Linked DNA regions of Homo sapiens. The protein of the gene in region 1 binds, or shares a complex with, the protein of each later gene. Each region holds a gene or a part of one and is shown in the gene's direction. Other genes may lie near its edges.

Region 1 (3,500 bases):
CTGAGGCAGGAGGATTCCTGGAGCCCAAGAGTTCAAAACCAGCCTGGGCAACACAGTGAGACTCCATCTCAAAAAAAATGAAAAAAGAAAGCATTATAAGATCAGTTATAACTTAGAAATCATCCTCAGAGGCTGGGCGTGGTTGCTTACGCCTATAACCCTAGCACTGTAGGAGGCTGAGGCAGGAAGATTGCTTGAGCCCAGTTCAAGACCAGCCTGGGCAACATAGTGAGACCTTGCCTCTACAAATGATTTTTAAAAATTAACTGAGCATGGTGGCACAGACCTGTGGTCCCAGCTACTCAGGAGGCTGAGGTGGGAGGATCACTTGAGCCCAGGAGGTCGAGGCTGCAGTGAGCCATGATTCCAACCCGGGTGACAGAGCAAGATCTCATCTCAAAAAAAAAATGAAAGAAAGAAATTGTCCTCAGAGACAAAAGAAAAACTTTGGTAAAGAGAAAAGATTGGAGTCACTCAGCTGTCAGGTCGGTACCACAGTCTGTCTGATCTCTGCAGCACCAGGGAGTTATTAAACATTTCCAAGTGAGAGGGTGTCTTATGTTTAAAATGTTAGCTATCACAAAAGAGGAAAAGATAGAGCAAACTGCTACATTAGATGTATGTCATGGGGACTCAAAGAAGGGGAATTTTTTAAACTTCACAGGGGTAGATCTTTTATCTGGGCCATCTGGGCCTAGAGGACAAATAGGATTTTGGTAGGGTGAGGCATTCCAGCATCATGGGCAAACTGGCGTAGCACAGCAGGTCAGTGATCTTGAAAAATTTGGCACCTTTTGTCAAGTAGGAAAGATAGATTGTTACTGTTTATCTTCACTTATTTCTTTTTTATTCTTTCTCTTACTTTCTAGTATGCTTTTCTCAGCATCCACAGATAAAACCGTGGCTGTGTGGGATAGTGAAACAGGTGAGAGGGTTAAAAGGCTAAAGGGACATACTTCCTTTGTGAATTCCTGTTATCCAGCCAGGAGAGGCCCTCAGCTTGTCTGCACTGGCAGTGACGATGGCACAGTTAAGGTGGGTATTGTCTCTCCGTGTTCCAGTTTCTGAGGTGATGTGATGTGAACCTTATCTTGCCTTGCCACTTGTACTCTAGCTTCCTGTGCAAAACTTAATTTTAGCAGTCATCTCCCATAACACACTTGAAATTTTTCCCCATTTAAAATAAAACATTTAATACAAGTTTTAATTACCCTACAGAATAATAATAGAACCATAGAATAAATTGTTACTTGAAATAGGCCGGGTGCTGTGGCTTACGCCTGTAATCCCAGCACTTTGGGAGGCCGAGGCGGGTGGATCACGAGGTCAAGAGATCAAGACCATCCTGGCTAACACGGTGAAACCCCGTCTCTACTAAAAATACAAAAAATAAGCCGGGCGTGATGGCGGGCACCTGTAGTTCCAGTTGCTTGGGAGGCTGAGGCAGGAGAATGGTGTGCACCCGGGAGGTGGAGCTTGCAGAGATTGCACCACTGCACTCCAGCCTGGGCGACAGAGCGAGACTCTGTCTCAAAAAAAAGAACTGTGACAGTAATATACGTGTCTTTCAAGGCTGTTATGAGTATCTCCACCAACAGGGAGGTAGCAAAAAAAAAAAAAAGGCTGTTCTGAGATTATAGACAATATATAAAAAGTTCAGTGAATAGTTTTAGTATGGCACAAGATGGGAACTTAAACATCGTTTAGTCAGATGGTTGCCAGCCTATCTTTATATCATCATCACCTGAAGAACCTGTTAAAAATACCCAAAGAATCTGGTTCAGTGGATCTGCAATGGGAATCAGATATTTTAATGTGTCCTTCAAGTGATTCAGTGTAGCCAGTCTCACATTCTGGGAGCCACTGATCTCACTGAGCATCCTCATTTTATAAATAAGGAAACTGAGGCCTAGAAATAATAATTTATCTCAGAGGCACACAAGGACACAGTACATCATAGTACCAACCATTTGATTCTCTCTTTGACACGAATTTTGGGCTCTGGTTTATATTTTAATTGTTAAACAGTGAGGGACTTCAAAAGAGTACATCTGGGAAACTACACCCCCATACTTCTTATTGCTTTTTAAATGAATTAATGAATTTGCTTTTTTTTTTTTTTCTTTGAGACAGGGTCTTGCTCTATCGCCCAGGCTGGAGTGCAGTGGCACAATCTTGGCTCACTGTAGCCTCCACCTCCCGGGTTCAAGTGATTCCCCAGCCTCAGCCTCTTGAGTAGCTGGGATTACAGGTGCACACCACCATACCTGCCTAATTTTTCTATTTTTGGTAGAGATGGGGTTTCACCATGTTGCCCAGGCTGGAGTGCAGTGGCGCAATCTCAGCTCACTGCAACCTCTACCTCCTGGGTTCAAGCAGTTCCCCTGCCTCAGCCTCCCTAGTAGCTGGGACTACAGGGACCCATACCACGCCCAGCTAGTTTTTGTATTTTCAGTAGAGGCAGGGGTTCATCATATTGGCCAGGCTGGTCTCAAACTCCTGACCTTGTGATCCGCCCCCCTCGGCCTCCCAAAGTGCTGGGATTACAGGCGTGAGCCACCACACTTGGCTGAGACGTTTTTCTACTGAGTGGTTTTCTTATACCTAATCACTTGGGGCCCCTTGATGGTTGGATGGGAGGAGAGTCTGTTGTTTAAGATTGGTTTCTAAACCAGAGCTCTGACCTAGATGTCACTGTAGTTGGAGAGTCTTAACAGTAGCTGATTTACTAATTGTCATTTCAGAAGATAGTAAGAGGTGGAAATGCCCCAGTGAATTTTGTTAACATTATTATTGAGGGCCTGCTGTAATAAATATCTAGGAACTATTTAGGTAGTAGAAAAAGAGTATATGTCCTTTCTGTCTGCCTTCTTTTGGTTTTTTGCTTCTCTTCTGCCTTAATTAAACATGATTTGGAATAGTTATTTTTACCTTATTACTCAAGTTAATACTTTTTTTAATAAGCAGTATGTCACATCACCTAAAGATGACTGCTTTTTAACCAGCTCCTATTTTTAATGTCAGTATATTTATATTTAAGGCATCATTAAACAGCTTTTTGCAATGTACTTTTCAGTTACTTGTGAAGTTGGAATGCTTTGTGTTCTTGTATTTTTGTTACTAGGTTGCAAGTACAGGAATTGAATAACTTCAGTTTAAGAGGAAAAAAAGTCATGTTGCTTTTTACATGTCAGAGTTCTTAACAGAAAGCAAAGGTTTCCAACAGCACTTGCATTTTTAGTCTAAAAGCATTCTGGGCATTATTCATACAGATCGTTTTCAAACTTTTTATCAAGTGCATTCTTCTAATAAAATTAAGTGAAATACTGCGTGTATGTGTGTATGTACTCATATATATATAAATTTCCCTTTCATGAGCAGTTCAGTCCTAAAGCCAGTTATATAGGCCAAAGCAGGGAAGGTGCTCTAGTTAGAGATGGGCCAAGGTGGCCCAGAGTAGAGTGTCAGAGCACAAGTGTGGTAAGGAGAGCATCCACACT
Region 2 (3,500 bases), about 120 Mb from region 1:
TAGAGATGGGGTTTCACCATGTTGGCCAGGCTGGTCTTAAACTCCTGACCTCGTGATCTGCCCACTTTGGCCTCCCAAAGTGCTGGGATTACAGGCATGAGCCACCGCACCCAGCCAAGTAATCCTATATTATAAGAGTCTAAGGGTCTAGAGGACAAAAAGTCTGTAGGTCTTTACATTGTCAAGAACAATGAGATTGTAAGTATTTTTGGATGATAGTAAATACCTCTCCCTGACTCTTAGAGTAAACTTTGGTTAGTAATGTAATGGTTAATGTAAAGTGCTAGACTTTGAAGAAATGTAAGAGTGTGGAAATATTTCTAGACTCATCAACTCTACCTTTTAAGCATTCATCTATTTGTTTACTCCAGAGGCCTTTGTTTATAGAGAGGAAACCATTTTGGATTCATCTTTTTACTTGCCACTCCATTCAGGCAGCTGCTGATGCTAAAATGGAAGACATAACTAAACTTTCCCTTCTCCAGAGTTCGAAATTTGAGCAACCCAGCCAAGAAGTTCAAGATTGAAGCCAATGCTGGGCAACTGTACCTGACAGGGGTGGTGGTACTGCACAAGGATGTCAACGTGGTAGTAGTGGAAGGGGGTGAGTCTGAAAAACTTGAGGGAGACTGTCCCCAGACAACCCTAGGCTTAGAGTGATTAGCATTGTGGGGAGAAAGGAGAAAAAGATCGTATTTTAGTGCCATACCTGATATAATATGCTAGGTCTCTGCTTCTGTGTTTTTTGGAGTAGAAGGCCCTAAGATGTGGTTCCTGAGATTGCTTCAACTACCACATTAATGTCTGAGCTCAGAGGTTCTTTCTACCCCATCATCTTCCACAGTTCTGGCAAAATTATTCTTCTCTGTTTCCAGGCCCCAAGGCCCAGAAGAAATTTAAGCGTCTTATGCTGCATCGGATAAAGTGGGATGAACAGACATCTAACACAAAGGGAGATGGTGAATGGGGGTTAGAGGGGATTAAGGGGGAGAGCTATGGGAGGTGGGGATGGTGCATCTGTCCGTTCATCTTATTTCCTCCCTGTGACACTCTTGATAACACTAGATAGTGTTCAGGAATTTTAGAAAGACCCGTTTAGACTTTGAGCCTCCTAGACATTCATACAATATTTACTACATGATTATATGCATGAATGGTAAAGCTATTTTTTTGCCTATCATTTAAGGCTTTTCTACCAGCTGGTTTCTGTGTCTGTCCTGGATCTGAGTACCGGTTACATGAATTTATTCAGTATTTGAAAATTCAGCAAGCAGCTAGGCATGGTGGCTCATGCCTGTAATCCTAGCACTTTGGGAGGCTGAGGCGGGCAGATTGCCTGAGGCCAGGAGTTCGAGACCAGCCTGGGCAAACAACGTGGTGAAACCCCATATCTACAAAAAGTACAAAAATTAGCTGGATGTGGTGGCACACACCTGTATTCCCAGCTACTCAGGAAGCTGAGGTGGGAGGATCACTTGAGCTTGGGGAGGTCGAGGCTGCAGTAAGCTGTGATCGTGCCACTGCAATCCAGCCTGGGTGACAGAATGAGACCCTGTCTCAAAAAAAAGAAAAAGCAAATCTAGTAAGCTATACATTCATGTGTACAGTGTCTATATTATATTATTATTTGATTTTTTTTTTTTTAAGGATTGAAGCCAAAAAGATCTTCAGGTCAAAAAAGCTCTGCTTTGATCAAACTATTTCTTTTGTCTGATATATATATATACACACATACACATACATACACACACACACACATACATACACACATGTACACACACATACACATACACACAATACACACACATACATGTACATGTACATACTCACACATATGCTCTTCAACTTAATGATGGGGTTAGTTCCAATAAACCTGAGATAAATTGAAAATATTGTTAAGTCAAAAATGCATTTAAGGCCAGGCACGGTGGCTCACACTTATAATCTGAGCACTTTGGGAGGCCGAGGCGAGCAGATCATTTGAGGTCAGGAGTTCGTAACAGCCTGGCCAACATGGTGAAACCCCGTCTCTACTGAAAACACAAAAATTCGGGGCGTGGTGGTGGACCTCTGTAATCCCAGCTACTCGGGAGGCTGAGGCAGGAGAATCGCTTGAACCTGGCAGGCGGAGGTTGCAGTAAGCTGTGATCGCACCACTGCACTGCAGCCTAAGCGACAGAGCAAGACTCCATCTCAAAAAAAAAAAAATGCATTTAATACATCTGACCTACAGGACATCATAACAGCCTAGCCTTCCTTATACTTTCTCAGAATACTTAGATTAGCCTACAGTTGGGCAAAATCATCTAACACAAAGCCTATTTTTATCTCATGTAAGAGTATTTTACTGCATATTGCTAGCCCAGGAAAATCTCAAAATTTAAAATTTGAAGTACATTTTCTACTAAATATTTATCACTTTCACACTATACTCAAGGCAAAAAATTGTAAGTCAAGGACTGTCTGTCTATATTTGAAGGCCAGACATTCTTCTGGCCATCATACTCCCATTAGTGTTCATTCTTCTCATCTTTGAACACCTGGATTAGCATTTAAAATCTGCAGAGAGGCCTGGTGTGATGGCTTATGCCTGTAATCCCAGCACTTTGGGAGGCCGAGGCGGGTGGATCACCTGAGGTCAGGAGTTTGAGACCAGCCTGACATGGTGAAACCCCGTCTCTACTAAAAAATACAAAAATGAGCTGGGCGTGGCAGCGTGCGCCTGTAATCCCAGCTACTCGGGAGGCCTAGGCAGGAGAATCACTTGAACCCAGGAAGCGGTTGCAGTGAGCTGAGATCATACCACTTCACTCCAGCCTGAGTGACAGAGCAAGACTCCGTCTCAAAAAAATAAAAATATAAATAAAATCTGCAGAGAGTTCATCTTAAGATACCTGAGAATAAAAAATATTTTGTTCTACACGTGCATTTTTTTTTTTTTTTTTTTGAGATGGAGTCTTTGCTCTTTTGCCCAGGCTGGAGTGCAGTGGCACCATCTTGGCTCACTGCAGCCTCCGCCTCCCAGGTTCAAGTGATTCTCCTGCCTCGGCCTCCTGATAAGCTCGGATTACAGGCACCTGCCACCACACCTGGCTAATTTTTGTATTTTTAGTAGAGATGAGGTTTCGCCATGTTGGCTAGGCTGGTCTCAAACTCTTGACCTCAGGTGATCCACTCACCTCAGCCTCCCAAAGCGCTAGGATTACAGGCGTGAGCCACCACGCTGGCCGATAATTTTGATTTGGTATATCTGCCCTCCTCCTCCATTGGGTGAAAGTTTTTTGAGAGTAATATATGATGTTGACATATGAAGCCTGCCTCCCAAAGTGCCTAGGACAAGTTTTTATTCTTGACTGCTTGTCTTTTATTTCCTTATTCCCAGTACCTGGTGGAGCTCTTGATTCATAACAAGTGCTATGTAAATGCTAATTGTATCAATTAATATTACTGCCTACTTGGAGCTTCAAGTCTAATTTGGGGAAAATAAAGAGCAACAGAAA
Region 3 (3,500 bases), on another chromosome or scaffold:
CAGCTAATTTTTATGATTTTAGTAGAGATGGGGTTTCACCATGTTGGTCAGGATGGTCTCAATCTTTTGACCTCGTGATCTGCCTGCCTCGGCCTCCCAAAGTGCTGGGATTACAGGCGTGAGCCACCGCGCCCGGCCCAGTATCATTTTTTAATTGCACAAAGGTTGGCGTCATGATAGACTGTCTAACTGCCAGCGAAGTGTCTAGCGGAGGCAGAGCCTGTCGCCTGTAAGGAAGGCCATTTAGGGGTCTGGGAACTGTGGGCTGAGGCCCGGAGGTGGTGGTCCATCTCAGGGCAGAGCTACACCTCCTGAGGGGCCCATGGCGCAGGGCTCCAGGGCTACAGCCAACCTCTAGCCTGTCTCTCTTCTAGTTGGTGGAGCTGAAAAATGGGGAGACGTACAATGGACACCTGGTGAGCTGCGACAACTGGATGAACATTAACCTGCGAGAAGTCATCTGCACGTCCAGGGTGGGTGCTGCACCCACCAACGGGGGTGGGATGCAGGGGGTGCACACTCAGCCTCCTCCCTCCCTCCCTGGGCCTCATGGGAGGAGTCAGTGGGGGAGGCCGCCTAGGACTGCTCGTCCTTCCAGGGGTCAGTCAGGAGGGACAGGGCAGGGTGAGCTAGGCCACCAAGTCTCCCAGTGTGCCCTGGACTTTGACCCTGTGGGAGACTTTCCTGCTGTGTGTCTGTTGGTGCCACCCCTGACCTGGAAGGACCTAGGACTGGGGACTCCCTGTGGCTCAGGCTGGGGCAGCCCCCTCCAGGGGAGGCCCAAGACTCCCGGACTCTGCTGCCTTTAGTCCAGCCTGGATGTTGCCTGCACTCTGCGGGCCATGGTAGTGTGGCCCTGGGATGTCCGGGATGCCCAGGTCACGGTGGGCAGGAGCAGCGCCAGGGCCCGGTGGGTCAGGAGCCACCAGCCAGAGCCCAAGACCGGAAGTGCCTGGCTAGGAGTGCTGCTGGGTCGGCCGGGGCTGGAAGATGGTTCCCCTGGTGTCACGGGCCTTCCCTGCCCCTGGGATGACCCACAGAGCACTGAGGAGGAGGCCAGGGATGGTGCTGAAGGCAGCGGCTCCCTTGGACTCCTCCCACCAACCTTCCCTGACCCCATCTGTCTTGTCTCCCTGTGGGTGACAGCCCCCCATGGTATAGGGAGGAAACTGCTGGGGAGCTTGGAGTGCCTGCCTGGGGTCACCTTGACAGGACAACAGGGCTCGAGGGGGGAGGCGCTTCTTCCTGAAGTGGCCGTATCTTGCCCTGACCGCCACCCCCACCCGGGACTGGGCCTCTCATCAGCACAGGGCTGGGCGGGGTGGGGACAGGTGGTGAGGCTGCTGTGCAGCAGCGCTAGAAGCTCTAGAAACTGCTTGCTGGGTTTCGTGCCATAGCCTGTCGGAGGGCGTCTGGGTGGGTCCAGTCTGGCTGTGTCGGATGGTGCCTTGGTGCAGAACCGCGTGCCTCCCATCTGCGGCCAGCGGGGCTCTGTCCACTTCCGGTATTGGAATCACCAGGCGTGTTGCGTGCGTGAGCATGTGCGGTCTTGTGGACACCTCCAGGTCCTAGACATGAGAAGCCTGTTGATTCAGAGGCTGCGTGGTCTCCAGGGGTTGGTTTGGCCTCTGCCTCCAGCTTCGAGTGGACGGATGGCTTTCCCTGAGCAGCCTGCCTCTGTGGCCAGGCGGTGATGCTGCCGTCACATGTGGCTGGGAGGAGAGGCGATGGGAACTCACATCGTCCCCATCTAAGTGGGGCCCTCCCTCCCTCAGAGGCAGGCCGCAGGATGCAGAGACCCCGGGCTGAGAGACCTCTGGAGCGCTGTGGGCAGGAGGCAGGGGCCTCCCTGCAGTGAGCTCAGGCCCTGCCCAGGTTCCTGCACGAGGAAGCCTCTGGGCCCTGCCTGGGAGAGCTGGGCGCCAAGTCACCTGCCCAGGCCCTGAGTCCCCACAGAACCATGGTGTGTCCGCCCCACGAGCCCTCGAGGGGTTCCTGGGAGAGTGAGCACCCAAAGGGGCTGTTCCTCCCCGCCCAGCGCTAGGCCAGGCCACACCTACCCAGGTGTGGAGGAGAGTGTCTGACAGGAGGACTTGGGGATTCGGGCAGGTAAGGCCTTTTGGGGTCAAAGTTAGCCAGATGAGAAGTGGGAAAACCACGTGCAAAGTTCTGGGGGCAAGCCCATGGCGTGTGTTCCGGAAACAGAAAGTTCCATCTGGAGGGAGTGTCGTCGGGCTGGGAGAGGACCGCCAGGGCGGGGCAGGATCTCGGGCCCTAGAGAGCCCTGCTGAGGTTCTTAGACCTTGCCCCCAGGCTGGAGGGGGCCCTGGGTGGGTTCCAAGCTGGAACATACTGTGATCTGACTTTAAAGGGCATCGGGGGCAAAGGCCATCCAGGCGTCGTGCGTGGGTCTGTCCAGGAACCTGGGCGGTGGGGCGGGGCTGGGAAACTGATATGGTAGGAATGGCCCTGGCCCCTGCTAATCCCTCGATCTGTCCCAGTGGGGGCCTCGGAGGCATTGCAGCATGAGTCTGTGTCTTTGCAAGGCCCCCATTTCTCCAGTCTTGGTTAGCTCTCCTAAAACTGGCATCGCTGGGAGCCGCCCTTGAGCCACCCTGGCAGGACCCAAGTCCCCCCATTTCCCGCCCCTCTTCACCCACCACACTAGGCCTGTAGCTTGCTCGCATGTCCCTGCACCCAGCGCAGGCCCTGTCAGGAGATACTTAGATGAATGAATGAGTCAGGGCATGTAGAGAGGCTTCCAGAAGTGAGGTGGGGCTGGGGCAGGAGGAGGAGTAGCTGGGCTTCGGCTGTGTCTGGTGCACAGGGAGGCCCCCACCCGCTCTGGGCTTTGGGCTGCAGGTGAAGAACCCCAACCAGAGAGAGCCCCATCCCAGGCTGGAGGGAGCCCCAGTCAGCCACTCCTGAGCCAGGCCCACGGGCAGAGGATAGGAGCCAGTCTTCCTTGTGAGTGCACAATGGGGGCTGCGCCTACCACACCCACCCTTGCTCCTGGGTGAAGGATTGCCTGGGGTCAGGACAGATCCTGCCTGCAGGGTGGACCCTTTGCCACGTATGTCCCGGGACTGATACTGTGCAGCTTGCAGGGGTGGTACGGGGTGCAGGCTGGGCAGGATCTGCAGGGCCTCCCGCGCTCCCAGGGCTGGGCCAGACGGCCCGGTGGTAAGTTAATAACCTGCTCCCCTTCTCCGCAGGACGGGGACAAGTTCTGGCGGATGCCCGAGTGCTACATCCGCGGCAGCACCATCAAGTACCTGCGCATCCCCGACGAGATCATCGACATGGTCAAGGAGGAGGTGGTGGCCAAGGGCCGCGGCCGCGGAGGCCTGCAGCAGCAGAAGCAGCAGAAAGGCCGCGGCATGGGCGGCGCTGGCCGAGGTGGGTCTCCCCTCTCCAGTGGACGTACCTGGGGCGGGAAGACAGCCACACGTGGCATCCCTCCTTCTTGGGGTTGCCCTTGCAGCGCTGCCTCGGAGCCT
Region 4 (3,500 bases), on another chromosome or scaffold:
AAGTGACGCAGAAGCTGAAGCCGTGAGAGAAGTCTATGAAAGGGCCATTGCCAATGTCCCACCCATTCAGGAGAAGAGGCACTGGAAGCGCTACATTTATCTTTGGATCAACTATGCACTCTATGAAGAATTGGAGGCAAAGGTGAAAAAACAGAATTATGTGTCAGCTGATAATGGTTTCCTGTCTTCTGTATTCACAGCTCACCTATTGTGGATGTTTGTAATTCTTGAAAGAAGGAAATTTAGTTTTAAATTTTTATAGGCTTCTGTTCATCCATACAGTTATATATTCGCTCTGCAACATTTTAAACCCTCTGTGCTTGTTGTGGCCACACGTGAGGGGCTTTTTTAACTTTGGTTTGATTTTTACTTGAGGCACAACAAGATATCACTTGGAGCTTGAAAGAGAACAGTGAACCAGCCCTTAATTTAGTGAAATATAGTTTCCTGGATTTGCTCATTAATAGGAGTAATTCTGGCTAGATTATGCATTTTTGCTTTTAGCAAAAATCAAGTGGCATTTTCAGAAATCATTTGTATTAACCTTCTGGGTTTGATCTGAGACTATGAAACATCTTTGTTTCTTTCTGCCATCAGGCAAAACGGCTTTCTACAAAGAAGGGCTTAGAAGTTTGGTGGCTATCTTGTTGGTGATTCTTAAACTGAAGTTTCATGGCCGTTCATACTTTAGATCATAAATCAGGGTTTGCAAGTAACAACTTGTGAAACATGCTGTTTTGGGGGTGTACATTTTTACCAATATCAGTAAAATTAGTAACTAGTAAAATGAGTGTTAGCAGCAGACTTCAATATTTTGTGAAAATTTCTTATCCTAATACAGGATCCTGAGAGGACAAGACAGGTGTATCAAGCCTCTTTGGAACTAATTCCTCACAAAAAGGTATGTTTGCTCTAAAGTGTTCCATTTCAAACAGGTCAGAATCCTCTTCTGTTACTTGTGAAGTAATTCAGTGAAATAATATTGATTGATAAAATGCTTCCCTGTCCCACCATGGACAACATAAATAAGACTGAGATATGCTCCTTGCCTCTGAAAACAGCTCACAGACTAGGTTGGAGGACAACCTGCATTGACAAACAAATAATATAAATTCAGAGAAGGCTAGGTAATGTGAATAGTCTGAGTGGAAGGAGAAAGACATCCATGCAGAGAGCACACAACGTGTGCGGGGGACACACAGGCGGGTTTGTTGGTAACAGTGAGTGTGTGCATGCACAGATGAATGTGCCCCTTGTGTAGATGGTTGAGATGTTACCTCCGCCTTGTTTCCCAGCACGAGAAACAAAACGTGTTTCCTTCTGTAGAAGTGTTGACTGAGTTACTTTTCAGAATAGAGGTAGGACATTCTGCCCATATACAAGCATGCCTACAAAACAAAGTCTGTTCTGAGCAGAGGCTACCGTGCCATACAGTACAGTACAGTATCTGGATCATGGTTCTCAGGAGAGGTTACCATGCCATGCAGTACAATATAGTATCTGGATCATGGTATGTGGGTTTCTAACTTTTGTGAAATGAATGTGGTCTTTGCTTGTAAATAAGCAGAGTACATTCCTCTTACTCTGAAGTTTTAGAGAAATCGAATTACCAATGGCTTTGGTTAATTTAAATTAATTTTAATTCAATTTAATTTGGATGAGGCTTTTAAGCTAGATATTTTTGTGCTTTTGTTTTCTAGTTCACATTTGCCAAAATGTGGATACTGTATGCACAGTTTGAAATACGACAGAAGAATCTGTCATTAGCCAGAAGAGCATTGGTAAGTAAAGAAAGGATCAAGATGTCTCATCAAGTTCTATGAGAAAGAAATTAAAATCTTGGTGCTTGGAAGTTGTACAGTTCCTACTTTAAAGAGTGACAGAAGTATTATACCTTTATAGCCTGGGACATGTTAGAAAACATGCGTCCTCTGTAAAAACACTGACTAATAATGCGTAAATTATTCTTATTACCTGGGGCAAATTAACATTCTGTTTCAATATTGGAAACTTCTATAGCTACCAGTTACTAAATCTTTCCACAGACTGGAATTAGTAATCTGATCCTGTGCAAACTTTTTGGTGTGTTAAATGCACTTTTAATTGTTCCACTTTTTTTTTCTTTTTTTTTTTTTTGTTTGTTTGGTTTTTTTTTGAGACAGGGTCTCGCTCTGTTCCCCAAGCTGGAATGCAGTAGCGCGATCTTGGCTCACTGCAACCTCTGCCTCCTGGGCGGAAATGATCCTCCCATGTTGGCCTCTCAGAATGCTGGGATTACAGGCATGAGCCACCATGCCTTGTCCTTTTTATTTATAGGAGGTTTTATGCATTTGACATCCCTATTCCCTAGGAGATCCTGAGAAACTTTCAAATCTTATTTTATTTAGTTGCCCAAACAATTCTGGAACACTGCCTCTTGCTGAGTGAATTAGAGGAGTTTCCTTCAGCCTTTTGTCAAGAACCAGTAAACATTGTGATACCACAGAGGGAAAGAATGGTAGGCCATGTTGACTTTGCAAGATTCTTCCTCAGCAGAGAACAGCCTCTAGGGCAGTGCAATAACTGCACAGATTAAATCCACTACAGTATCACAGTGGTCTGGTTATTTTATTTTCCAGGGAACTTCCATAGGCAAATGTCCAAAGAACAAATTATTTAAAGTTTACATAGAATTGGAGCTACAGCTTCGAGAATTTGACAGATGCCGGAAGCTTTATGAAAAGTTCCTGGAATTTGGACCTGAAAATTGTACCTCATGGATTAAATTCGCTGAATTAGAGACAATCCTTGGTGATATTGACAGAGCACGGGCAATCTATGAATTAGCCATCAGTCAGCCACGTTTAGACATGCCAGAGGTGAGCATCTCAAGTCAAATATAATTTTGTTTGAGATACGTGTTTAGTCTTACTTTAGATGACCATCTAAATGTGGGTGTATTTTAGAGTATAACGATGATCTAACTAACTTAGTCTCTTCTACTCAGATTAGGCTTGTACGTGGAAAGGTGGCTGTGGGGGACAGGGGAAGTAGCCCTCTCATTAGATACCAGAGCAGTAGACATCCAGGATGATGCCCAGGATGAACTGGGATATCATGGGGGTGGGTGACGCCCCTTCTGCAGCAGGAAAGCCTAAAGGGGCTGGGGAAGAGGCCAGGCAAGGAAGAAGCCAGCAGGCTGGCCCACCCGGAGAACGAGGGGGATGGAGGTAGGAACTGCACATCCCTGTATTCTCTAAACCAGGATGTCCTTGCAACTTCTGTTGTCACTGTCCTGAAAGTCCTCGCCTGCCTTCAGTAGTTAAGCTTGACCCACAAGGTAGCACCAAACCACAGCTAGGAAAGATTTGAATCTCACATGAGTCGTAGAACTCACCCAGCCGTTTTGTTAATCTCATGCACTAACATGACCCTGCATTTAATGGTTTGGCCCCCTGATTGCATTAATTAAGGCAGGGCTTTGGGTATCACTGAGTTCATCAGTTGTCCTCGGCTCCTCC
Region 5 (2,283 bases), on another chromosome or scaffold:
GGGGCTCCTCTCGGGCGCCTTTCCTCTTCTGCCCTTGTTAATTCCCGCTATGAACGCAGGGTCCCTGTCTCCTCCCCAGAGGACCCTCCCTCATTTCCCTGCCCCCGCTCGCTCCCCTCCCCAGTGAGGCCGCCAAGTCCTCAGACTCTCCCCCAGAAGCTCCTGCGGCAAGTCCCCAGCTGGCAAGTCCCCATCCCGGCCCGGGCACTGGGGGAATGTCAGGACTTAGGAGAGAGAGGGTCTTGCCCCTTGGATCCATTGATACTGAGACAAGATTTATTCTTGTAGCTGGCCATGGTGGCTCATGCCTGTAATCCCAGCACTTTGGGAGGCCAAGACAGGAGGATCACTCGAGCCCAGGAATTTGAGACCAGCCTGGGCAACATAGTGAGACCCTGTCTCTACAAAAAAAAAAAAAATGTAATTAGCCAGGCATGGCGGTACATGTGCCTGTGGCCCCAGCTACTCAGGAGGCTAAGGCAGGAGGATTGTTTGAGCCCAGGAGGTTGAGGCTGTGAGCTGTGATTGCACTGCTGCACTCCAACCTGAGCAACAGAGCAAGACCTGGTGTCTGAAAAAAAGTTTAAAAACCTGGGCCCCATGGTTCTCCCATGCCCCCACCACTGCAGGACCACAGTAGTGAGGAGTTTTAATCGCCTTCAGCCTCTTGAGAGCTTGTCTTGGGCTTGCTGGCACTTCCCTGGGGTGCCAGCCCACATGGTCCCCACCCCACATGAACAGCCTCTTTATTTTTTTATTTTTTGAGATGGAATCTCGCTCTGTCACCCAGGCTGGAGTGCAGTGGCGCGATCTCGGCTCACTGCAAGCTCCGCCTCCTGGGTTCACACCATTCTCCTGCCTCAGCCTCCCGAGTAGCTGGGACTCCAAGTGCCTGCCACCACGCCCGGCTAATTTTTTTGTATTTTTTAGTAGAGACGGGGTTTCACCAAGTTAGCCAGGATGGTCTCGATCTCCTGACCTCGTGATCCGCCTGCCTTGGCCTCCCAAAGTGCTGGGATTACAGGCGTGAGCCACCGCGCCCGGCCCCCAGCCTCTTTGTTATAGGGTGAATATTGGCCCCCTAGGGCTCCAGGGACCTTGCAGAGACCAGGAGGCCCAGGGTGCCTGTATTCTGGCCGGCCATCTGATAACCTGGTTCCCGGCCCTGGTGCCTGGGCCCCAGTGAGCTCTGAGACGCGGGGTAGCCGGCTATCACCTGGGCCTTCTTGTTCCCATGGTTTGTGGAGTGAGGGAGGGCTGTGGCTGCTGTCTGTGGAGCTGCCACTGGTCTCTAGGGGCCATGGGTCTCAGCCGTGGGAGCCGGGGACCTGCCCCACAGAGCGCATCCCGTCTGAGGTCCCTGCGTGCTCGTGGCGCCTGCAGGGTGCAGGTGGGGAGGTCGGAGCGAGGGTCTTGGGTGGGTGGGGGGTCTCGGAGGCTTCCTGGAGGTCCCTCAGTCCTCTCTATCTGCTCCTCCCCAGACCCTGACGACCAGTACAAGCTCACGGAGGACACCCGGCAGCTGGGCCTCGTGGTGTGCCGGGGCACGTCCGTGGTGCTAATCTGCCCGCAGGACGGCATGGAGGCCATCCCCAACCCCTTCATCCAGCAGCAGGACGCCTAGCCTGGCCGGGGGCGCGGGGGGTGCAGGGCAGGCCCGAGCAGCTCGGTTTCCCGCGGACTTGGCTGCTGCTCCCACCGCAGTACCGCCTCCTGGAACGGAAGCATTTTCCTTTTTGTATAGGTTGAATTTTTGTTTTCTTAATAAAATTGCAAACCTCAATGTGTCTGAGCCCCGAATCTTGCTTTTCCCTTGACCTTCTGAGGAAACCTGGATTCCTGGAGATTGGACTCAGTCCCTGGAGCTCATCAAATACCAGCCATGGTCCCTCCTGGGGGTGAGGGTTCAGGAGTGACCAAGGCGGGCACAGCCAAGGCCGAGACAGGCGAGTTTGGAACCTCAGTCTGATGAGGGGCTTGTGGAACCCCAGGCCCGCCCCCAAGACAGCAGGAGCTGGGGTGCATCAGGAGCCGGGATGCATCAGGAGGCTGGGGTATATCAGGAGGCCGGGGTGCATCAGGAGGCCGGGGTGCGTCAGGAGCCGGGGTGCATTAGGAGGCTGGGGTGCATTAGGAGGCTGGGTGTGTCAGGAGCTGGGTGTGTCAGGACCTGGGGTGAATCAGGAGCCGGGGTGCATCAGGAGGCTGGGGTGCATCAGGAGCCGGGGTGCATCAAGAGGCCAGACCCCACAGCCCATGCAGCTAACACCTGCCCCCGCTGCT
Region 6 (3,500 bases), on another chromosome or scaffold:
GTTGACATCTTGGTCCTAGGAATGTGGGTGGAGTCCACAACCCCTACCTGACTTCTTCCCCTCAACACTTTAGGTGGAAGGCCTTGATCCTGACAATGTTCGGGCCATGGTTCGTCTGGCTGTGGGGAGCCGGGTGGTGACTGTTAGTGAGTACTACCTGCGGCCTGTCTCCCAGCAGGAGTTTGACAAGAACACCTTGGATCTCAGTGAGTGAGCCTCTTGTAGAGCTAGGGGAGTTGGCAACGCATTCCTAGGGGTGGCAGGGCCTGGCTAATGGGGTGGTTTTAGATCTGCAGCAGGGAGGGGCAGCAGTGTGCCTGGCAGATATGACTTCCAATCAGAGGTCAGGAGGTGAGAATGGACATAAGTGACTTACTCCATTTGATTGGAGAAAGGTCGATGTCATACCCCTGGGTCTGTAGCCTGTCTGAGTGAGAAGAAACAGGTGCAGAAACCAATTCCTACCTTCGAGATCTTTGTCCATTTGGGGTGATGAACCTCTCTTTTACTAGGGAGTGAGAACTGCTAGGATTAGGGTGTGACCAAGAAGGAAGGAATTCTAGGCAGACAGAACAGCACAGGCGAAGGCGTTTCGGTAGGACGGGGCAGTTTGGCAAATGGGTACAGACAGAGCTCTCTGGGAATCTCTAGTCCACACTAGGTGAGCATTGTTGTTGTGGGCTAGGTTGGCTGCGGGAGGGTTCCTGAAGGAAGCTGAAATGGTTGAGAGGTGGGGGAGAGGCATTCTACTAGCAAATGCATGAGGGGTGAGAGGGGCACTTTGGCAGGTGGGAGGTGGCTCTAGGCTGAGACATGGCCTTGGAAGGAAAGGGCAGTGAGACACTGAGGCTCTGTCCTGGTTCTCCTCATAACCTCTTGAACAGGCCAGATGAGCAAAACTTCCTTCCCCAGGGCAACAGAACGGAACTGCCTCATCACGGAAGACCCTCTGGAATCAAGAACTCTACATCCAGCAGGACAACTCAGAGAGGAAGCGGAAACACCTTCCAGACCGGTGGGACTCTGAGCATGCGGGAGGGGTCAAGAAGGCAGGGCTGTGGGTAGGCTCGAGCAGCCAGGGAAGGCTTCCAAGGCAAGGCGGGCTCATAGAAGGAACGGGGAACTGCATTGTGGGTGGGTTTCATAGCATAGGCAAAGGGAGGGCAACTGGAAAGTGCATCTGATGAAGAGCTAAGCCTGGTGCTGGCACCTTCTCCACAGACAGGATGGGCCTGCAGCCAAGAGTGAGAAAGCAGCCCCCAGAAGTCAGCACTGGTTGCACAGGGACCTGCGTGTGCGGTTTGTGGACAACATGTACAAAGGAGGCCAATATTACAACACCAAGGTGGGAACCCTGCAGCCTGAGTCCCCCTCCCTCTCCTAGGGACTGGGCCCCCCTACCTCTCTAAAATCTCACATCCCCCTGACCTGTATCCCCAGATGATAATTGAAGATGTCCTAAGCCCAGATACCTGTGTATGTCGGACAGATGAAGGCCGAGTCCTGGAAGGTGAGTTTGAGCGATGGCAGCTGGAGGTTGATCAAGAAGAGTGTTTTAGGCCCAGAGCCTGGCCCAGGCAAAGCTGGGAGGTTTGGCAGAGTTCAGGTATTTTGCAAGGCCTAGCATCCTCTTACAGAACATTAGACACTTCCATGATGGTGGTTGGTTATCTTGAGCCCCACTCTCCCAGTCTGTCAAGTTTTCTTTTTTTTCTTTTTTTTTTTTTTTGAGACAGAGTCTCACTCTGTCACCCAGGCTGGAGTGCAGTGGCGTGATCTCAGCTCACTGCAACCTCCACTTCCCAGGTTCAAGCGATTTTCCTGCCTCAGCCTCCCGAGTAGCTGGGATTACAGGCAAGCGTCACCACACCTGGCTAATTTTTGTGTTTTTAGTAGAGACAGGGTTTCACCATGTTGACCATGCTGGTCTTGGAACTCCTGACCTTAAGTGATCCTCCCACCTCGGCCTCCCAAAGTGCTGGGATTACAAGCGTGAGCCACCGCGCTCGGCCTCCGGTCTGTCAAATTAGCATGGAATTTACTATTTCTTCCTCTTGTGATTGGTGCCTTAGTGAAGGAATGTGTATTGAGCTCTCAGTGCAGGGCAGGGGTTAAAACATGCCCACAATAAAAGGTGCCTGTTGTTATCACCACCACCCTTTATTACAGTGATTTTTGTAAACTACTCCTTAGGCTACCTCATCTGTGAAATGGATGTGGCGGGACTCCCATCTGTCAACAGGGTGTAGAGTGGCTCCAGGGAATACAGGAAAGGCCCTTCTTTTTTTTTTTTTTTTTTTTTTTTTTTTTTTTGAAACAGAGTCACTCTGTCACCCAGGCTGGAGTGCAGTGACGCAATCTTGGCTCACTGCAACCTCCGCCTCCCGGGTTCAAGCTATTCTTCTGCCTCAGCCTCCTGAGTAGCTGGAACTACAGGTGCCCGCTACCACACCCAGCTAATTTTGGTATTTTTAATAGAGACAGGTTTTCACCATATTGGCCAAGCTGGTCTTGAACCCCTTACCTCGTGATCCTCCTGCCTCAGCCTCCCAAAGTGCTGGGATTACAGGCATGAGCCACCACACCCAGCTGAAAGGCCCTTCTTTTTTTTTTTTTTCTTTTTTTTTTTTTGAGATTGGGTCTCATTTTATCACCTATGCTGGAGTGCAGTGGCACCATCATGGATCACTGCCACCTCAAATTCCTGGTTTCAAGCCATCCTCTCACCTCAGCCTCCTGAGTAGCTGGGACTGCAGGCACTGACCACCATGCCTGGCTAATTTTAAAATTTTTTGTAGGCTGGGCGCGGTGGCTCATGCCTGTAATCCCAGCACTTTGGGAGACCGAGGAGGGTGGATCACCTGAGGTCAGGAGTTTGAGACCAGCCTGACCAACATGTCAAAACCCCATCTCTACTAAAAATACAAAATTAGCCAAACGCAGTAGTGGGTGCCTGTAATCCCAGCTACTCAGGAGGCTGAGGCAGGAGAATCGTTTGAACCCAGGAGGCGGAGGTTGCAGTGAGCCAAGACCACACCATTGCACTCCAGCCTGGGCAACAAGAGCCAAACTCAGTCTCAAAAAACAAAACAAAAAAATCTGTAGAGATGAGGTCTGACCATCTTGCCCAGGTTGGTCTCGAACTCCTGGGCTCAAGCGATCCTCCCAACTTAGCCTCCCAAAGTGCTGGGACTACAGGTGTGAGCCACCACGCCTGGCCAGGAAAGGCCCTTCTGACAGGACGCTGGTTGGGCTGGTCCTTGCTGTGGGCCTCACTCCCCTCTCCCTTATCCATAGGCCTGAGGGAAGACATGCTGGAGACCCTGGTTCCCAAGGCAGAGGGTGACCGTGTGATGGTGGTGCTGGGCCCACAGACTGGAAGGGTGAGTCTCAGACCTGGCAGTAGAGGTTTGTGGGTCGTTCAGGGCCTGTCCCAGGGTCTAGGCTTGCCTTGCTGATTCCACTTCACCTCTGTTCCAGGTGGGACATTTGCTGAGCCG
Region 7 (3,500 bases), on another chromosome or scaffold:
GGTATGAAGATTGCCTGCACCCAACCCCGGAGAGTGGCTGCCATGAGTGTGGCCGCCCGAGTGGCCCGGGAGATGGGTGTGAAGCTTGGGAATGAGGTGAGATTTCTAGGGAACCGGGGGGTAGAGTCTGGGGTCTGTGACTCAGTCTACAGTTCCCTCAGGTCCCTACAGCAGAAGTCTTGGTGCTGCCCCACTTCACCTTTCCCCAAGTTCCTTTCAGGGCACACCAGCCCACACTTGGTTGCTAATGGTTCCCTTGACCAGGTTGGCTACAGCATCCGCTTTGAGGACTGCACATCAGAGCGAACTGTCCTCCGCTACATGACAGATGGGATGCTTCTCCGGGAGTTCCTCTCTGAGCCTGACCTGGCGAGTTACAGGTATCTCTAATCTCTGGCCTTTCTCTCCCTTCTTCCCACCCAGCCAATTCAGCCATTGTCTTCTGATTAATCCACCCGTTCTTGAATCTTTGTGGTTCAAATGGTCCTTGAACTGACCTCCAGGTACCACGGAGATGGGGCTGGAGGACAGAAGAGATTGTAGAGAAAGCCTCTTCTTTCCCCATTCATCTCCAGGGTTTAGAAAACAACCAGGATAGCAGAGCATTGCTGCCGAGACTTGAAATACCGTGTGAAGACCATTTGAAAACACTTGGAATGCTCAGCTCAGAGGGAGAAACAGGAAGCATCCTGGTTCCCTCTAAATATGTGAAGGCTGTTACATGGAAAGAAGGATCAGATTGTTTTATGTGACCCTACACGACATAGCTAGGAGCCATGGGGAGGTTACAGGGAGACAGATTCCAACTCAATACCAATGGCTGAGTAACCCTCAGAGTGGTGGAGATTGCAGGGCCTGTCAGAGTGGTTGGACTCTGGGTCTTGGCCCTCCACACAAGTCTTGGGTAGCTTGGTCTGTGAATAATGAGCTCTTAGTGCTGGAAATGGCCAAGCAGGGGTTGGTTGAACATGTGTTGAGGGGGAAAAGGGATTCATGAATGTAATGGGGGTGGGGTCAGGCCAGCTGAACAATATGTGCCTTTTTGACTCTTCAGAGGCTGTGAATTTCTGGTCTTGGAAGATCACAGTGGAGCAATTGGACAGATAGGATTTTATCCTTCATATCCCTTGCAAAAGATCTCTAAGAACCCATGGAGAGCCAGCCAGCGCAAGAGTGTCTGATGCAGATGTTTTTGCCCATCGAGCCAGCCTGCTTTGTGGAATGGCTGGGGACTTCACCATCACAGTTAGGGTTAGGCACAAAGAGTTGAGGTCAGGGAGGTGGGTAGGGGAAGATGGGGATGAGTTCCTGGGACTTGGCTGCCACCCAGAAAAGCCAAAGAACAAAGAGAAAGAAGGTGTCATGCACATAACTGAGTTAGGAGGAAACCAAGGAGCATGCAGAGTCCTGTGAGAGTTGAGGTAGAAAGGCTTAACTTGCTCCTGTCTCCAAAAGAAGAAACAGTCAAGAATGATGCCAGCAGCAGTTGTCCCACAGGACACCAGGAGCTTCTAGGCTATTTGAATCACAGCAGCTCAGGTCTATTACCCCCAGTCAGCCTTGCTGGCCCACCCTTATTGAAAGGGACCCTGCCTTCCACTTTTTTTTTCCTTTAAAACGTATCAGCCGGGAGCGGTGGCTCACGCCTGTAATCCCAGCACTTTGGGAGGCAGAGGCAGGCGGATCACGAGGTAAGGAGATCAAGACCATCCTGGCTAACACGGTGAAACCCCGTCTCTACTAAAAAATATAAAAAATTAGCTGGGCGTGGTGGCGGGCACCTGTAGTCCCAGCTACTCAGGAGGCTGAGGCAGGAGAATGGCGTGAACGCAACCCAGGAGGCGGAGCTTGCGGTGAGCCGAGATCGTGCCACTGTACTCCAGCCTGGGCGACAGAGTGAGACTCTGTTTCAAAACTCCGTCTCTACTAAAAATACAAAAAATTAGCCAGGCACAGTGGCAGGCACCTGTAGTCCCAGCTACTTGGGAGGCTGAGGCAGGAGAATGGTGTGAACCCAGGAGGCGGAGCTTGCAGTGAGCTGAGATCATGCCACTACACTCCAGCCTGCAACAGAGCAAGACTGTCTCAAAAAAAAAATCCTTCCACTTTTTCTTTTTTCTTTTTTTAGATGGAGTCTCGCTCTGTCACCCAGGCTGGAGTGCAGTGGCACGATCTTGGCTCACTGCAACCTCTGCCTCCCAGGTTCAAGCGATTCTCCTGCCTCAGCCTCCCAAGTAGCTGGGACTACAGGCGTCTACCACCACATCTGGCTAATTTTTTTTGTATTTTTAGAAGAGACGGGGTTTCACTGTATTGGCCAGACTGGTCTCGAACTCCTGACCTTGTGATCCACCTGCCTCGGCCTCCCAAGGTGCTGGGATTACAGGCGTGAGCTACCACCATGCCCAGCCTAAAACATATCCTTCAACTTTTTCTAGTAAGAGCAGCTGCTGAGTCTAAGCAGACTCTTGACTGAACTAGAGGGTATGGCTAACTTGTCCTGGCCTCAGTGTGCAGCCTCTACATCTTGTCTCCTATTATCTGCTGAGGCTGGGATAGGTTGCAGATCATGGGGCCCTGGCCTTCTCTGACTTTCTGTTGCTCTACATAAGTGGGATGGCTGACTTCTCCTTAGAGCCCCCTCCGTCAACAGTCATTCTTGAACTCTTTGTGTCCATTACTCCCCTCTCATCCAGTTAACTCTGGTGTCTGATACTGCATTGCCTAGCGCTCTTCCCTCATTGCTCTCCTATTCCCTCCCCAGCGTGGTGATGGTGGATGAGGCACACGAAAGGACCCTACACACAGACATTCTCTTTGGATTGATCAAGGATGTTGCTCGCTTCCGACCTGAGCTCAAGGTCCTGGTGGCTTCAGCCACAATGGACACTGCCCGTTTTTCCACCTTCTTTGATGACGCCCCTGTGTTTCGAATCCCCGGACGCAGGTTTCCTGTGGACATCTTCTACACCAAGGTGCCCCCTCAGGGAGGATGGGCTTAAGTCTGTGGCAGAAAAGCTGAGGCCTTTGGAGAAGGTTATCCTGTGGAGGGAAAGATGGAATGGAAGGTTCAAAGGGGAACTAGGATAAAGTGTATGTTGAATTGGGAGGAGAGGAAAGGTTTGCCTAAGCAGGTGGCCCTCCTGTGACCCCATCTCTTTCTGCTCTCCAGGCTCCAGAGGCTGACTACTTGGAAGCTTGTGTAGTATCTGTGTTGCAGATCCATGTGACCCAGCCCCCTGGGGATATCCTGGTGTTCCTGACAGGACAGGTGCCTGACATGGTGGGGAGAGGGGATGATGTATCCCAGGGGAAGACAGGGCCGGCATGTTGGCCTTCTGTGACTCTGGGACCCCTGCTGCTCTCCCTACCCTCTATCCAGGAGGAGATTGAGGCTGCCTGTGAGATGCTCCAGGATCGCTGCCGCCGCCTGGGCTCCAAAATCCGGGAGCTCCTGGTGCTGCCCATTTATGCCAATCTGCCCTCTGACATGCAGGCCC

The links.
Region 2: SNRNP40 (region 1) and PRPF3 share a complex: the UniProt entries of both Homo sapiens proteins name them as parts of the U4/U6-U5 tri-snRNP complex.
Region 3: SNRNP40 (region 1) and LSM4 share a complex: the UniProt entries of both Homo sapiens proteins name them as parts of the U4/U6-U5 tri-snRNP complex.
Region 4: SNRNP40 (region 1) and CRNKL1 share a complex: the UniProt entries of both Homo sapiens proteins name them as parts of the minor spliceosome.
Region 5: SNRNP40 (region 1) and LSM7 share a complex: the UniProt entries of both Homo sapiens proteins name them as parts of the U4/U6-U5 tri-snRNP complex.
Region 6: SNRNP40 (region 1) and GPKOW share a complex: the UniProt entries of both Homo sapiens proteins name them as parts of the minor spliceosome.
Region 7: SNRNP40 (region 1) and DHX16 share a complex: the UniProt entries of both Homo sapiens proteins name them as parts of the minor spliceosome.

What each region holds. Positions count from the first base shown.
Region 1 is NC_000001.11:31,286,789-31,290,288, reverse strand, and holds part of SNRNP40 (U5 small nuclear ribonucleoprotein 40 kDa protein), read left to right. Parts: intron 1-869; coding exon 870-1,035; intron 1,036-3,500. UniProt on the Homo sapiens protein: Required for pre-mRNA splicing as component of the activated spliceosome. Component of the U5 small nuclear ribonucleoprotein (snRNP) complex and the U4/U6-U5 tri-snRNP complex, building blocks of the spliceosome.
Region 2 is NC_000001.11:150,345,533-150,349,032, forward strand, and holds part of PRPF3 (U4/U6 small nuclear ribonucleoprotein Prp3), read left to right. Parts: intron 1-485; coding exon 486-604; intron 605-875; coding exon 876-959; exon of another isoform or gene 960-969; intron 970-3,500. UniProt on the Homo sapiens protein: Plays a role in pre-mRNA splicing as component of the U4/U6-U5 tri-snRNP complex that is involved in spliceosome assembly, and as component of the precatalytic spliceosome (spliceosome B complex).
Region 3 is NC_000019.10:18,309,577-18,313,076, reverse strand, and holds part of LSM4 (U6 snRNA-associated Sm-like protein LSm4), read left to right. Parts: intron 1-374; coding exon 375-473; intron 474-3,215; coding exon 3,216-3,399; intron 3,400-3,500. UniProt on the Homo sapiens protein: Plays a role in pre-mRNA splicing as component of the U4/U6-U5 tri-snRNP complex that is involved in spliceosome assembly, and as component of the precatalytic spliceosome (spliceosome B complex).
Region 4 is NC_000020.11:20,038,967-20,042,466, reverse strand, and holds part of CRNKL1 (crooked neck-like protein 1), read left to right. Parts: coding exon 1-142; intron 143-841; coding exon 842-901; intron 902-1,700; coding exon 1,701-1,781; intron 1,782-2,618; coding exon 2,619-2,858; intron 2,859-3,500. UniProt on the Homo sapiens protein: Involved in pre-mRNA splicing process. As a component of the minor spliceosome, involved in the splicing of U12-type introns in pre-mRNAs.
Region 5 is NC_000019.10:2,321,021-2,323,303, reverse strand, and holds the end of LSM7 (U6 snRNA-associated Sm-like protein LSm7), read left to right. Parts: intron 1-1,481; coding exon 1,482-1,624; 3' UTR 1,625-1,783; downstream 1,784-2,283. UniProt on the Homo sapiens protein: Plays a role in pre-mRNA splicing as component of the U4/U6-U5 tri-snRNP complex that is involved in spliceosome assembly, and as component of the precatalytic spliceosome (spliceosome B complex).
Region 6 is NC_000023.11:49,113,736-49,117,235, reverse strand, and holds part of GPKOW (G-patch domain and KOW motifs-containing protein), read left to right. Parts: intron 1-73; coding exon 74-206; intron 207-912; coding exon 913-1,015; intron 1,016-1,221; coding exon 1,222-1,345; intron 1,346-1,440; coding exon 1,441-1,510; intron 1,511-3,297; coding exon 3,298-3,383; intron 3,384-3,480; coding exon 3,481-3,500. UniProt on the Homo sapiens protein: RNA-binding protein involved in pre-mRNA splicing. As a component of the minor spliceosome, involved in the splicing of U12-type introns in pre-mRNAs.
Region 7 is NC_000006.12:30,659,507-30,663,006, reverse strand, and holds part of DHX16 (pre-mRNA-splicing factor ATP-dependent RNA helicase DHX16), read left to right. Parts: coding exon 1-96; intron 97-264; coding exon 265-380; intron 381-575; exon of another isoform or gene 576-1,150; coding exon of another isoform or gene 1,151-1,251; intron 1,252-2,389; exon of another isoform or gene 2,390-2,437; intron 2,438-2,764; coding exon 2,765-2,975; intron 2,976-3,172; coding exon 3,173-3,271; intron 3,272-3,382; coding exon 3,383-3,500. UniProt on the Homo sapiens protein: Required for pre-mRNA splicing as a component of the spliceosome. Contributes to pre-mRNA splicing after spliceosome formation and prior to the first transesterification reaction.